Linked DNA regions of Homo sapiens. Each later gene encodes a partner of the first gene's protein in a complex. Each region holds a gene or a part of one and is shown on either strand. Other genes may lie near its edges. The genes, in order: MOB4 and STRN3. A codon is read from its position in the direction of its gene.

Region 1 (7,301 bases):
TTTGAATGTTCTTATCATCTCAAATAAACTGCTAAGCATATTGCACAAATACGTTTTTTTTTTTTTTTGAGACGGAGTCTTACTCTGTCGCCCAGGCTGGAGTGCAGTGGTGCAATCTCGGCTCACTGCAACCTCCACCTCCCAGGTTCAAGCTATTCTTCTGCCTCAGCCTCCCATGTAGATGGGATTACAGGCATGCATCACCACACCTGGCTAATTTTTGTATTTTTTTAGTAGAGATGGGGTTTCACCATGTTGGCCAGGCTGGTCTTGAACTCCTGGCCTCAAATGATCTGCCCACCTTGGCCTCCAAAGGGCTGGGATTACAGACGTGAGCCACTACATCTGGTCCATATGTATTGTCTGTTAACAATGAGATGCTTGAAGAAATAAAAATCAACTACTTTTACTAAAATATTCGCATAGCATGGAAGAACTACACAAAGAAACCTTTAGCACATTCAACAAGGATTCACAAAATAAAGTATATACAATTTAAAATTTAGCTGCTCAAAAAAGATGTCATCATATAGACAGTAGGGCAAAGTACTCACATAAAAAACTTAGTTCTACTATTACAGTGAATTTGACATCAACCAATAAATGTGTTTATAATCGTAACACAGTCCTTACTAACAATGTAATCAAGGATTTTTTTTTTTTGAGACGGAGTTTTTGAGACGGAGTTTTGCTCGTTACCCAGGCTGGAGTGCAATGGCACGATCTCAGCTCACCGCAACCTCCACCTCCCGGGTTCAAGCGATTCTCCTGCCTCAGCCTCACGAGTAGCACCACGCCCGGCTAATTTTTGTATTTTTAGTAGAGACAGGGTTTCTCCATGTTGGTCAGGCTGGTCTCGAACTCCTGACCTCAGGTGATCTGTCTGCCTTGGCTTCCCAAAGTGCTGGGATTACAGGCGTGAGCCCCTGTGCCTGACCAAGGATTTCTAATTGTATTCTGATAGTAAAAGTTGTTAAGTCATCAAGAATTTAACTGAGAAACTGTTCTAGAAATCCAAATTTGACATCTCAAGTCAGAGAAAAGGAAATGTATACACACAAAAGAAGGGTTACTTATGGGAACATAAATAGTTAAAAGTTAGCTACTTTCCCAGATGTGATAGGAGAAAAAGAATGAATTGACTATACGATCTTTTGGAAAGAAAAGCCTAAGTTTACCTTCGGATATACATAGGGTAATTCAAACAAAAAGTGGAGCCTAACTTCCTTATCACACAGAACTGTCTTGTTCCCCTCTTAGAACACTTACTTTTATAAATCAATGGTTTGCCAGGCTCATTAATTTTTTAGTAGTATTTATGTATATATAAGTACATTTTCAAAATTCTGAAAACAGTATTAAGGAAAAACAGGAACTGTTTCACTTAGGTCTTACCTAGTATAGTAGTGAATCAACTTCACAATTAGTAAGATTATCAACATGAATACAAAAGCAAGACTACAAACTGATTATTTTCTTTTGGAGATGTTTTATGATCAATTCCAAACATACAGTACAGGGAAGGTGAAATGAGTAAGAAAAAAAAATCATATTTAAGTCCCCGTTAACACTAAGCCATATTATTCAAAATGTGTTTCAAAATACTCAGCCAGATCACCAAATCTCAGTCACTACCTTAGTATAAATATTCACTAAGAAAATAGTCAAGCAACAGAAATCCATTGTGAGACACCATCTAGAGAGAACAGCTACACTGCTATATATAATTTATTAACTTAGTAGTTTAGTTTCTCAATATTTAGCAAGTTTAAAAATTACCATTACCATTGGTTTATAGTGCCATTAATATAAATCCATAATTTCAAAGTCATCATTCCTTTCACTGTGAACTAAGACTTCTTAAAAGATAGTTGTGGGTTGGGGAACAGTAATGACTGTAGCTGATGGGCAGTGTTCAAAGCCAAAAAGACTGGCAAGCTTGGAAAGGCATACACTATACATACACACACTCTCAGTATACTACTGTTCCCCTTATTTTTGCTGTACATTCTTGTCTGAAAAGATGGTATAAATTATTCCCTTAAATTTGAAAAAACAATTAAGATGAATACATTTTCATCTTCAAAATTATCCTTCTAAATAAAAAAGTTCCTCATGTTTGTTAAATCTGTTCAAAAGTTGGATTTAAATACTTTCTTCACAACATGTACAATGTTTTCACCCTTACTGCCTCATTACAATCAGTTTGGCAATAAGACCTCCAGTGCTTTATCAAAAATGGCATTCAATAGATTATAAGATTGTTAAATCTGCATTTCAATCATTCTTACCACAATGAATTATAACAAAGTCCAAAAAAATGTATGACTATTCATCAACACCCTTGGAACCTATGAATTATTGCAAATAATCTCACACGTGCATGTAATCCAAACATAAACTTCGTGGGAGAGGGGGTGTAAAATAAATACTATGGTATTTCTTCAATTCTATTTAATGCTGCCTAGCTGGTTAAATGAAAGATTAATATATTACTAACAGGAAGAGTCAAACTATTTTAAGGACTGTTTTCTAAGTAGAACAATTTTGCAAAACAAAGATAAGCAAGAGCCTATGCAAATACATTTTCTTGTAGTGTAATGTAATTGCTAATATGAGGTATAATCTGTAAGCAATTAATACAAATATAAATAGGTATAAGCCACCACTAACTCAGTCTGGTGAAAAGCTTCTCAGCTAAAGTAGTTTGAAGATAAGGTTAAGGGAAATGAGAAGGGGTGGACAGGGCAGGTTTCCAGTGGGAAAATAATTTATGTGCCTTACCATTGTGATCATCCTGTATGTACCAGTCCGTTGTTGCAGAACGGTAAATCCTTTCCAAGTATGTTATACTTTATGTAGCACAGTAAAATTATTTAAGTATTACTAATGCTTCATTTGCATTTGTATTTAGATATACACATAATTATATATGCATATCAAAAACTATAAACAGAATTTTAAAACACTTTTATCTCAATTGGGGAAAGTTAACAGGTAAGACAAAACTACGTACTACAGAATTTTTTAGGATATCTAAACTCAAGGTAAAACCAATAGAAAACATTTCTACCTCTTTAGTAAATGGCTTGTGTGAAACCTCAAGCTCTCCCTCATTTTTTTTACAGATGGGTTTGTCTGATGAGGATTGTGATCCAATGATTGTTTAGCAGCAATTTTACCAAACTGTAAATTCTTTTATTAACAGGCATTATAAACAGATAATACTAATCTTATTTAAAAACCATGAGTGCCACACTGGTGAATATACAGCTTATGAATAACTTAAAAAGTATTTCCCATTTTAAAAGGCAAACCCAGCATACAAAAACCTATACTAAACAAAGAAGCTATAATATGGATACATGATTGATGTGTCTAAAATGATATATACAGTACATAATGTTAATTATATGATCAGTACATTTTTCCTATGATTCCCTTCATGCTTCACTTTCCCCAGAAACTGAATTCTGTACTTCCTCTTCTAAAATTGGTACAATCAGGTTATCCTTGGACATCAAATTGTATTTCATCACAAACTTAGTAAACCGATGACACAAAAATGTTTCATTCTGTAGAGAGGAAGACAAAAATGTTATTTTAATTCACTATCCCAAACTAAAAGACTAGAAATAACATCAATATATATTACTGTTACACTGATAAGAATGCATCAAGATAATCAGTGAAATATACTTACTTCATATTCATCAAATATCTGCCGATGATGAAAATAAGCATGTGAAAATATTCTGTAAATCCTACGGCATACTGATCCTAGTTTCGCTACAGATGATTCCTTTATGCTAACCCTAGAAGTAGAAAAGAAACCATAGATTCTTAGAACTGGATAGAATCTTAGGAACAATATAGTCCAATTTCTCGCTTACAAGTGTAGAAACTGACACCTAGGGAAAATAAGCGACTACTCCAAGGTCACACTGCGAGTAAATGCCTGGAGCCCCTGCTCCTCAGTTCTAGGCCAGTGTTCTTTCTACCTAATCACAGGGCCTAACTTAAATTCAGCATTATAGTTTTGAAACTTTGTAAAAGTTTAATGCAGTTAGAATAAATCCCTGACATTTCAAAATTTACTATAACATCTATTTCCAACATTAATACATTGTCCACTAGAGGCGATTGAAAACTCCTGAAAGGAATTATTGTTTTATTTTACAGAACTAGGTTATTCTTTCCTTTTCTTTTCTTTTTTTTTTTTTTTTTTTTAGAAATTAAGGCCAGGTGTGGTGGCTCACGCCTGTAATCCCAGCACTTTGGGAGGCCAAGGCAGGTGGATCATCTGAGGTCAGGAGTTCGAAACCAGCCTGGCCAACATGGTGAAACCCCGTCTCTACTAGAAAATACAAAAATCAGCCAGGCGTGGTGGCAGGCACTTGTAATCCCAGCTACTCATGAGGCTGAGGCAGGAGAAACGCTTGAACCCAGGAGGCAGAGGTTGCAGTGAGCTGAGATTGCGCCACTGCACTCCAGCCTGGTTGAGCAAGACTCCATATAGAAAAAGAAAAACAGAGAGAGAGAAATTAAAATTGTTTTTTTAAAATTGAAATTTTCTGCATATTTCTGATATCCTTTTTTAAAATATGTATACACAGAATATTAAGGTCAAAAGTCAGTATTTTTCTTAACATATTTTATATGAGCTCTTTGAAGCTAATCATATTTGGTGGGGGAAATCTCCAAATCTATCCACCTGGTAACAAATACCTTAATAAAATAAAAGGCAGTCACAAACTTCACCGATAATATATTACATGTACAGACTTCTCAGATCTTAAAAATCAATGAGCAAGGATAAGGAATCCTTCAAAAACAAATAAGAAAGTCTGCTCTTTTTTTTTTGAGACAGTTTCGCTCTTGTTGCCCAGGCCGGAGTGCAATGGCGCGATCTCGGCTCACCACAACCTCTGCCTCCTGGGTTCAAGCGATTCTCCTGCCTCAGCCTCCCAAGTGGCTGGGATTACAGGTACTCGTCACCATGCCCAGATCATTTTGTATTTTTAGTAGAGAAGGAGTTTCTACATGTTGTTCAGGCTGGTCTCGAACTCCCAATCTCAGGTGATCCGCACGCCTCGGCCTCCCAAAGTGCTGGGATTACATCCGTGAGCCACTGCGCCCAGCCAGAAAGTCTGCTCTTTAGGCATACTACATAAAGGGAGGTCGAGTCTAACTAACATAGAGATTCAAGTGAGCAAGTATATACATATCCCAACTCTAAAGCATGAGAGGGAGAGCTCTGCAGAATGACATATATGAACAGGTACTAGCCTTAGACTGAACTGGCCTTGAGCTTTGACAGCCAAGTTCTGCTGTTTAACCACAGTCCTAATTTCAAAACTTGAATAAACAAGCCAAAATACAACAGCTAAAAAAAAAAATACAAAAATGCATTAACGAGCAACCTAATTTTACTTTTAAAATACTAATCTTTTATTTTATTATTATTTATACTTTAAGTTTTAGGGTACATGTGCACAACGTGCAGGTTTGTAACATATGTATACATGTGCCATGTTGGTGTGCTGCACCCATTAACTCATCATTTAGCATTAGGTATAGCTCCTAATACTATCCCTCCCCCCTCCCCCCTAAAATACCAATCTTATAAATTAACTCTAAAATGTTTAACACTATGTTTAAAAGTTTCGATTACCTGCTGGGAAAATATTTATTGCTATTCAGAAGACATGCAGCACCATCAAGTGTGTGTCTAGTATAGTCTATAGCAGGACACTACAAAAGAAAGAATATAGAAATGCATCAACAAAGAGCTCTCTCTTAAGTTAGATATATTCATTATATGGGTATACCTTATTCCAAAGACATGAGCATGTTCTAAGAAAAAAGTTCCTTACAATTTCCGAATGCTTGTAAAATATAATGTTATATTAATAAGTAAGGTTTATTATCCCCTTGAACCATATCACAATTCTAGATGATACATAAACCAGTCTCCCATTTTTATTCCCAACATCGTACCTACAAGAAAACAACAATTACAGACAAGAAGAATCCTGATTTATCTCTGGTATCTCCAGGGATGCCTTCTTATATCCTAAACAATATTCCTTATTATGTCCCTAGCACTCTATTATCAATCTAGCAGCCCTCTAAAGAACTTTCTCCCAGATCACCTTTGAATTTTAACATGAAATATCAAAGTTTCCTTATATTTTAATAAATCTGACTTATTCTGTTCCATTTATCAGAAACAATGAAAAAAAGAAACAATGAAACACTGTCTCATGGCAACTCAGTAAATTTATTAAAGGAAAAATAAAACTGCAAAGTAATTGTCCTCATCCAGTCCTCCTGAGGGCAGACAGGGAGCAACATCAAGGGGAAAGCAGTCTAGAAACAAACCAGGGAGTCAACCAGAAGGAAAAAACAACTAGAGGAAGGAGTAACAATGACTGTAGCTCAAAGACTCTACCCAGTAATTAGGTTATTTTTCAAGTTTGAGACTGAAGCTGTCACTTAGAAATACGGTTTAGTAACTACTAAATATGGCTTAGTGCCGTGGCACTAAAAAATTACCTAATAAAAAAGAAGTATTTTTCTAACAATATATCCACAGGAATTTCTGATTAGTGGACTCCTTGCCAAAAACAGTACCATGAGCAATATTTATTGAAAAAAACTACCTTTCTCCAGATATATGACCACAGATGAGTTGGTCAAAAGCAAATATCCCAAGTAACTGTATTTCTCATATTTGTCATTTGGGTATACCATGAGACAGTTTTACAACCTTTAAACCAGAATCATCAACAGAAATACAGCAGACCCTTGAACAACACAGGTTTGAACTGCGTAAATCCACTTATGCTCAGATTTTCCCAGCAACGGCAAGACCAACCCCACTTCTTTCTCTTTCTCCTCAGCCTACTCAACGACATGAACACAACAAGGAAGACCTTTACAATGATCCACTTAATGAATGGCAAATATATTTTCTCTTCCTTACGATTTTCTTTAAAAAAAAGAAAGAAAGAAGGTCTCACTATGTTGACCAGGCTGGTCTCGAACTCCTGGCCTCAAGCGATCCTCCCATCTCAGCCTCCCAAAGTGCTGGGTTTACAGGCATAAGCCATCACGCCCAGCCCCTTATGATTTTCTGAATAACATTTTCTCTAGCTTCCTTCATTGCAATACACTATATAATACACAGAACATACAAAATGTGTGTTAATCGACTGTTATCGGTAAGGCTTCCAGTCAACAGTAGGCTATTAGTAATTAAGTTTTGGGGGAGTCAAAAGTTAGATACTCAGATTTTC
Region 2 (4,377 bases), on another chromosome or scaffold:
TAATTGCCATTGAAATGGCAAAAACCACAATTACAAACGGCAAAAACCACAATTTTTTTTTTTTTTTTTTTTTTTTGAGACGGAGTCTCTGTCACCCAGGCTGGAGTGCAGTGGCGTGATCTCAGCTCACTGCAAGCTCCGCCTCCCGGACTCACACCTCAGCCTCAGCCTCCCGAGTAGCTGGGACCATAGGCACCCGCCACCACGCCCGGCTAATTTTGTGTGTGTGTGTTTTTAGTAGAGACGGGGTTTCATCGTGTTAGCCAGGATGGTCTTGATCTCCTGACCTCATGATCCACCCACCTCGGCCTCCCAAAGTGCTGGGATTATAGGCCTGAGCCACCGCGCCCGGCCAAAAACCGCAATTACTTTTGCACCAACTAACCTAAATATTCAATGTAGTTTATTCCTTGCTGAATTTTTTTGTGGGAACAGGTATGGCAAATAGAACAACACTGCCATTAATTGAAATTCAGATTTAATAATGTAACAGGATGTCTAAGCAAATTACTTAAAACTGCACCTGTGCATTTCTGGGGGTTATTTTGAATTGCATAATTTAATGCAAGACTTTTTCTTAATCTTCAAGTGGGGTGAAATACTTAGACATTATTAATAGTGTTAGTGATCTACTCTTATTAGAATATCAATAAGTAGGACAAAGTTTGAAAGAACAGCATAAAAATGAAGGACTCACTAAGAAATCTCCATTTCCTAGTTTAATTATGGAGAATAAAGTATTGCACTTTATTATTCAACACAAAATGATGTAGCCAACAGTAACATACAGGTACACAATTTAATATTTATTATATGCATTTTATATACATTATTTTTCAACAGCTGTATGTTTGCTATGTGGTACAATCTTAAAAATTTGCTGATTCATAGTTTGTAAAACAAAAACCTTACAAAACTCATCAAAACTCGCAAACTGATCAGAAAAGTTTCTCGGAAGACTAGAAAAAATACTTTATTGTCTTAATCATGCATTACACAAACAAAATCTTTAGTTACACCATAAAATTAAGCACATCTAAAAAAATAAAACAGGGATAACTAGTCAAAACACAGCAGATTTCTGTATCCTGATTCAACTATTTTTGTATCCTATTTGTAATGCAAATAAAACTTTACTCCAAATATTTTTAAACAAGTTAGTTTTGTTTGGAATCATGGTAAACCAAGATATATATCTTAGGGGGAACCACCTTGGTTTGTAATTTAAACTATAAAATACTCCATTTTTAGTCTATTTTAGACTATTCAAAGAGTTCCAAAATAGATATACAGGTTCCTTTAGCACATTAATAAAAGGATATAAAGACCAACAAAAAGTGAAATAAATAATAGGCCATTAGCAAGATGGATAATCCTTGATAAATAAACTTGTAAATACAGTAAGATGTACAAAATATCACATAGTGATAGGATGCCAAGATTAGTTTTTTTCTTTAAGAGTTCATTTGGAGTACTAAACCCCACTGTTTCATTTTAATACACTTAATAGTCCTTGGTTTATGAAGACATTTATGTGATGATGAAAGTTATTTAGCATCTTTATGGAAGGACTTAGCTGAGCTGTATTAGGCAAAAGAAGGAAAGAAAGTGGTTACAGGGCAACGGGTCAGTGAGATCTCTGTGTTTTAGGGTTGTATAATGCAGAAAAACTTCAATACAATCTTGAGCACTGTTGTGACAGGCTAAATATATAAAAAGACTTATAAAAACTAGAATTTTATCCAAACATTTTGTGCAACTAATGCTAAAATATTTTAAGTTAAATTTTCTTTTTCTTTTTTTTTTTTTTTAAAGCAAAATAAGTTTAAAAGGGAATCTGTGGCATTCAACCGATAAACAGAAGATCACTAAGAGATGAAAAAAAGCTACTCTTGGAGCTCACTTCCCCCAACAAGAGCACCACATTCCTAACCCCTAAGGCAGCACACAGAGTCCAAAAAAAAAAAAAAAAAAAAAAAAAAGAAGAAGAAGAAGAGAAAAAAAAAAACTTTTTTGAAAGATCAGACTCCACATTGGCTTAAAGACACCTAAAAACAGATATACGCTCAGTTCACATCCAGTACAGGCCACAAATACTGGAGTCCTTTTTTCTTTGTCCCACAAAATACAGTAATTACAGTTAACTTAATGAGCTTGACATTAAGATGTGATTTCCACCAATTTGTGCCTGCCCCAGATAGCCTTCACCAGGCAGATCACATGTAGTGTCATATCAGTAACCTTTCTGATGGCAGTGATGCAGACCCTCTTTCTGTCCAAGCAAATCTTGTTACGATGCAAGTTTTTGTTGATTCATACAAATACTTTGGCAAGAGCATCAGCTCCTGCACTAGCTATATATGCTTTTGACGAGTGGAAAGCAACATCATAAATTGATTCATCCAATTTCTTTCTGTGAGCTGTTATTTCTTGCACACATGTCTTGCTGTCTAAATTCCATAATCTGATGGAACAGTCATGGCCTGTAAAAGAACAAATAAAATTTGTTACTGAGTAACAATCTTTTATAAAGTTTGTGGGCAGTACAGGACTTTAAGACTTACTTCCAGACATCAAATAGATTCCATTAGGATCTACTGCTAGACTTGTAACAGCATCCAAGTGAGCTACCATAGAATGGATCATTTTACCTAAACAAAACATAACAGAGAACTGATTAAGTTTTCACAAATACTAACTCGAGACAACAGAAACTACAATATAGCATCAACATAAAACAATCATTATAGCAACTTTTTTATTGTGGTAAAATATACACAACATAAAATTTACCACTGTAAACATCTGAGTACACAATCCTGTGTCTTTTAGAACATTCACAATGTTACACAACCATCACCATTCTCTAGAGTTCCGAACATTTTCATCACTGGAAAAGGAAACCCCATACCCAATTAAGCAGTCACTCCTATTTGCCCCTCCAACCCCTGACCACTAATCGACTCTTTCTATAGACTGGCCTATTCTGGATACTTCGTATAAGTGAACTCATACAATACGTGGCTTTTTGTGTCTGGCTTCTTTCACTTAATATAATGTTTTAAGGGTACATCCACCACTACGGTAATGTTTTCAAGAGAATTTTAATTCAAATGCATAACTTTCTCTAATAATTACTCCTAAAAAAGACATCTGTGTAACATGTATCTGACAATATCTGATAGACACTGTAAAGCAATGACAATAGGATTGCATCAAAGGCTCAAGATCGTGTAAACTGGAATTAAATAAGCCAAGTGTGGTGAGGTGTGCCTGTAGTTCCAAGCTACTCAGGAGGCTGAGGTTGTGGAATCACTTGAACCCAGGAGTTCAAGGCTGCAGTGCACTATGACTGTGCCTGTGAGTGGCCACTGTACTCTAGCTAGCCTGGGCAACATAGTGAAATGCTGTCAAGAAAGGAAAGGCAAGGAAAATGGGAAGGAAAGAGAAAAGAGAAGAAAGAAAAGAAAGGGAAGGGGAGGGGAGGGGAGGGGAGGGAAGAAGGAAGGAAAAGTGTCAGTGAAAGACCTTAAGACTATTTTATATACTGGGCTAACAATAAATAAATCACCAGAAAATATGTTTCTACCTAAACATTCCATTATCAAGTTCAGTTCACTTATCCTTTGAAATATAATCATTTTACATACTCTAAAAAAGAAAGGAGTAAACAAATTACTCTAGATTTCCCCAGATATTAACAAAAACACTGCTCTGGAAAATGTGACTTAATGAGTATCTTCAGTGAAGATTTGGCAAGCAAATGGAATTCAACAGCAAGTAGAATTTAAAAGACAAGTTGTGAACACAAAGTTGTATTGCACAAATACTTTGGGGCAAGGGCATCCTGCAATGGTAATATATGCTTTGGATGGATAGAAAGCATTATAAACTGATTCACTAGGCAGGCAATAAAATATAAATACTGATACTTTTATAAGTTACTCTCCTTTCACTCAGCAATGAGTCTTTATTACTCAAATGCCTGGGATGTCCCTAATGAAAGATAGAGGCTTTTTCCAAAATTCTAGTTATAATCATTAGCCATGCCTCTGGTCCCATGATGATACTCTACACTAGGATATGAAAGAGGTCTAGTTTTGTTATTTGTGATGGGGCTATAGCTGTTGACCTGAATACAAAACCACAACATAATAAAATGTGTAAAAATACACTCCAAAAAACCTATAAAAAGTAATATAGTAGGCCAGCTGTGGGGGATCATGCCTGTAATCCCAGCACTTTGGGAGGCTGAAGCGGGCAGATCACCTGAGGGCAGGAGTTCAAGACCAGCCTGGCCAACATGGGGAAACCTTGCCTCTACTAAAAATACAAAAATTAGCTGGGTGTGGTGGTTAGCACCTGTAATCCCAGCTA

The links.
Region 2: the proteins of MOB4 (region 1) and STRN3 are in contact, whole or in part, in a cryo-EM structure (PDB 7K36), measured with the Homo sapiens proteins. Residues at the interface, in NP_056202.2 of Homo sapiens: Arg12, Asn13, Arg14, Pro15, Gly16, Thr17, Lys18, Phe22, Trp25, Thr36, Gln40, Gln41, Tyr71, Arg75, Cys78, Leu79, Asn82, Val86, Lys87, Gln89, Ala112, His113, Ile122 (codon at 5,745), Asp123 (codon at 5,742), Arg126 (codon at 5,733), His127 (codon at 5,730), Leu129 (codon at 5,724), Asp130 (codon at 5,721), Gly131 (codon at 5,718), Ala133 (codon at 5,712); in NP_001077362.1 of Homo sapiens: Arg477, Ser478, His479, Phe480, Asp481, Asp501, His502, Thr503, Glu524, Tyr527, Thr528, Arg530, Ala531, Ile533, Ile553, Pro569, Tyr570, Asp571, Thr572, Tyr573, Asp587, Ala588, Trp590, Ala606, Asn652, His683, Asn685, Arg765 (codon at 2,415), Lys766 (codon at 2,412), Lys767 (codon at 2,409).

What each region holds. Positions count from the first base shown.
Region 1 is NC_000002.12:197,546,789-197,554,089, reverse strand, and holds the end of MOB4 (MOB-like protein phocein), read right to left. Parts: intron 5,755-7,301; coding exon 5,675-5,754; intron 3,816-5,674; coding exon 3,704-3,815; intron 3,576-3,703; coding exon 3,444-3,575; 3' UTR 391-3,443; downstream 1-390. Other genes in the region: HSPE1-MOB4 protein, read right to left, coding at 3,444-3,575, 3,704-3,815, 5,675-5,754.
Region 2 is NC_000014.9:30,893,098-30,897,474, forward strand, and holds the end of STRN3 (striatin-3), read right to left. Parts: intron 2,652-4,377; coding exon 2,565-2,651; intron 2,519-2,564; exon of another isoform or gene 2,484-2,518; coding exon 2,314-2,483; 3' UTR 707-2,313; downstream 1-706. UniProt on the Homo sapiens protein: Calmodulin-binding scaffolding protein which is the center of the striatin-interacting phosphatase and kinase (STRIPAK) complexes.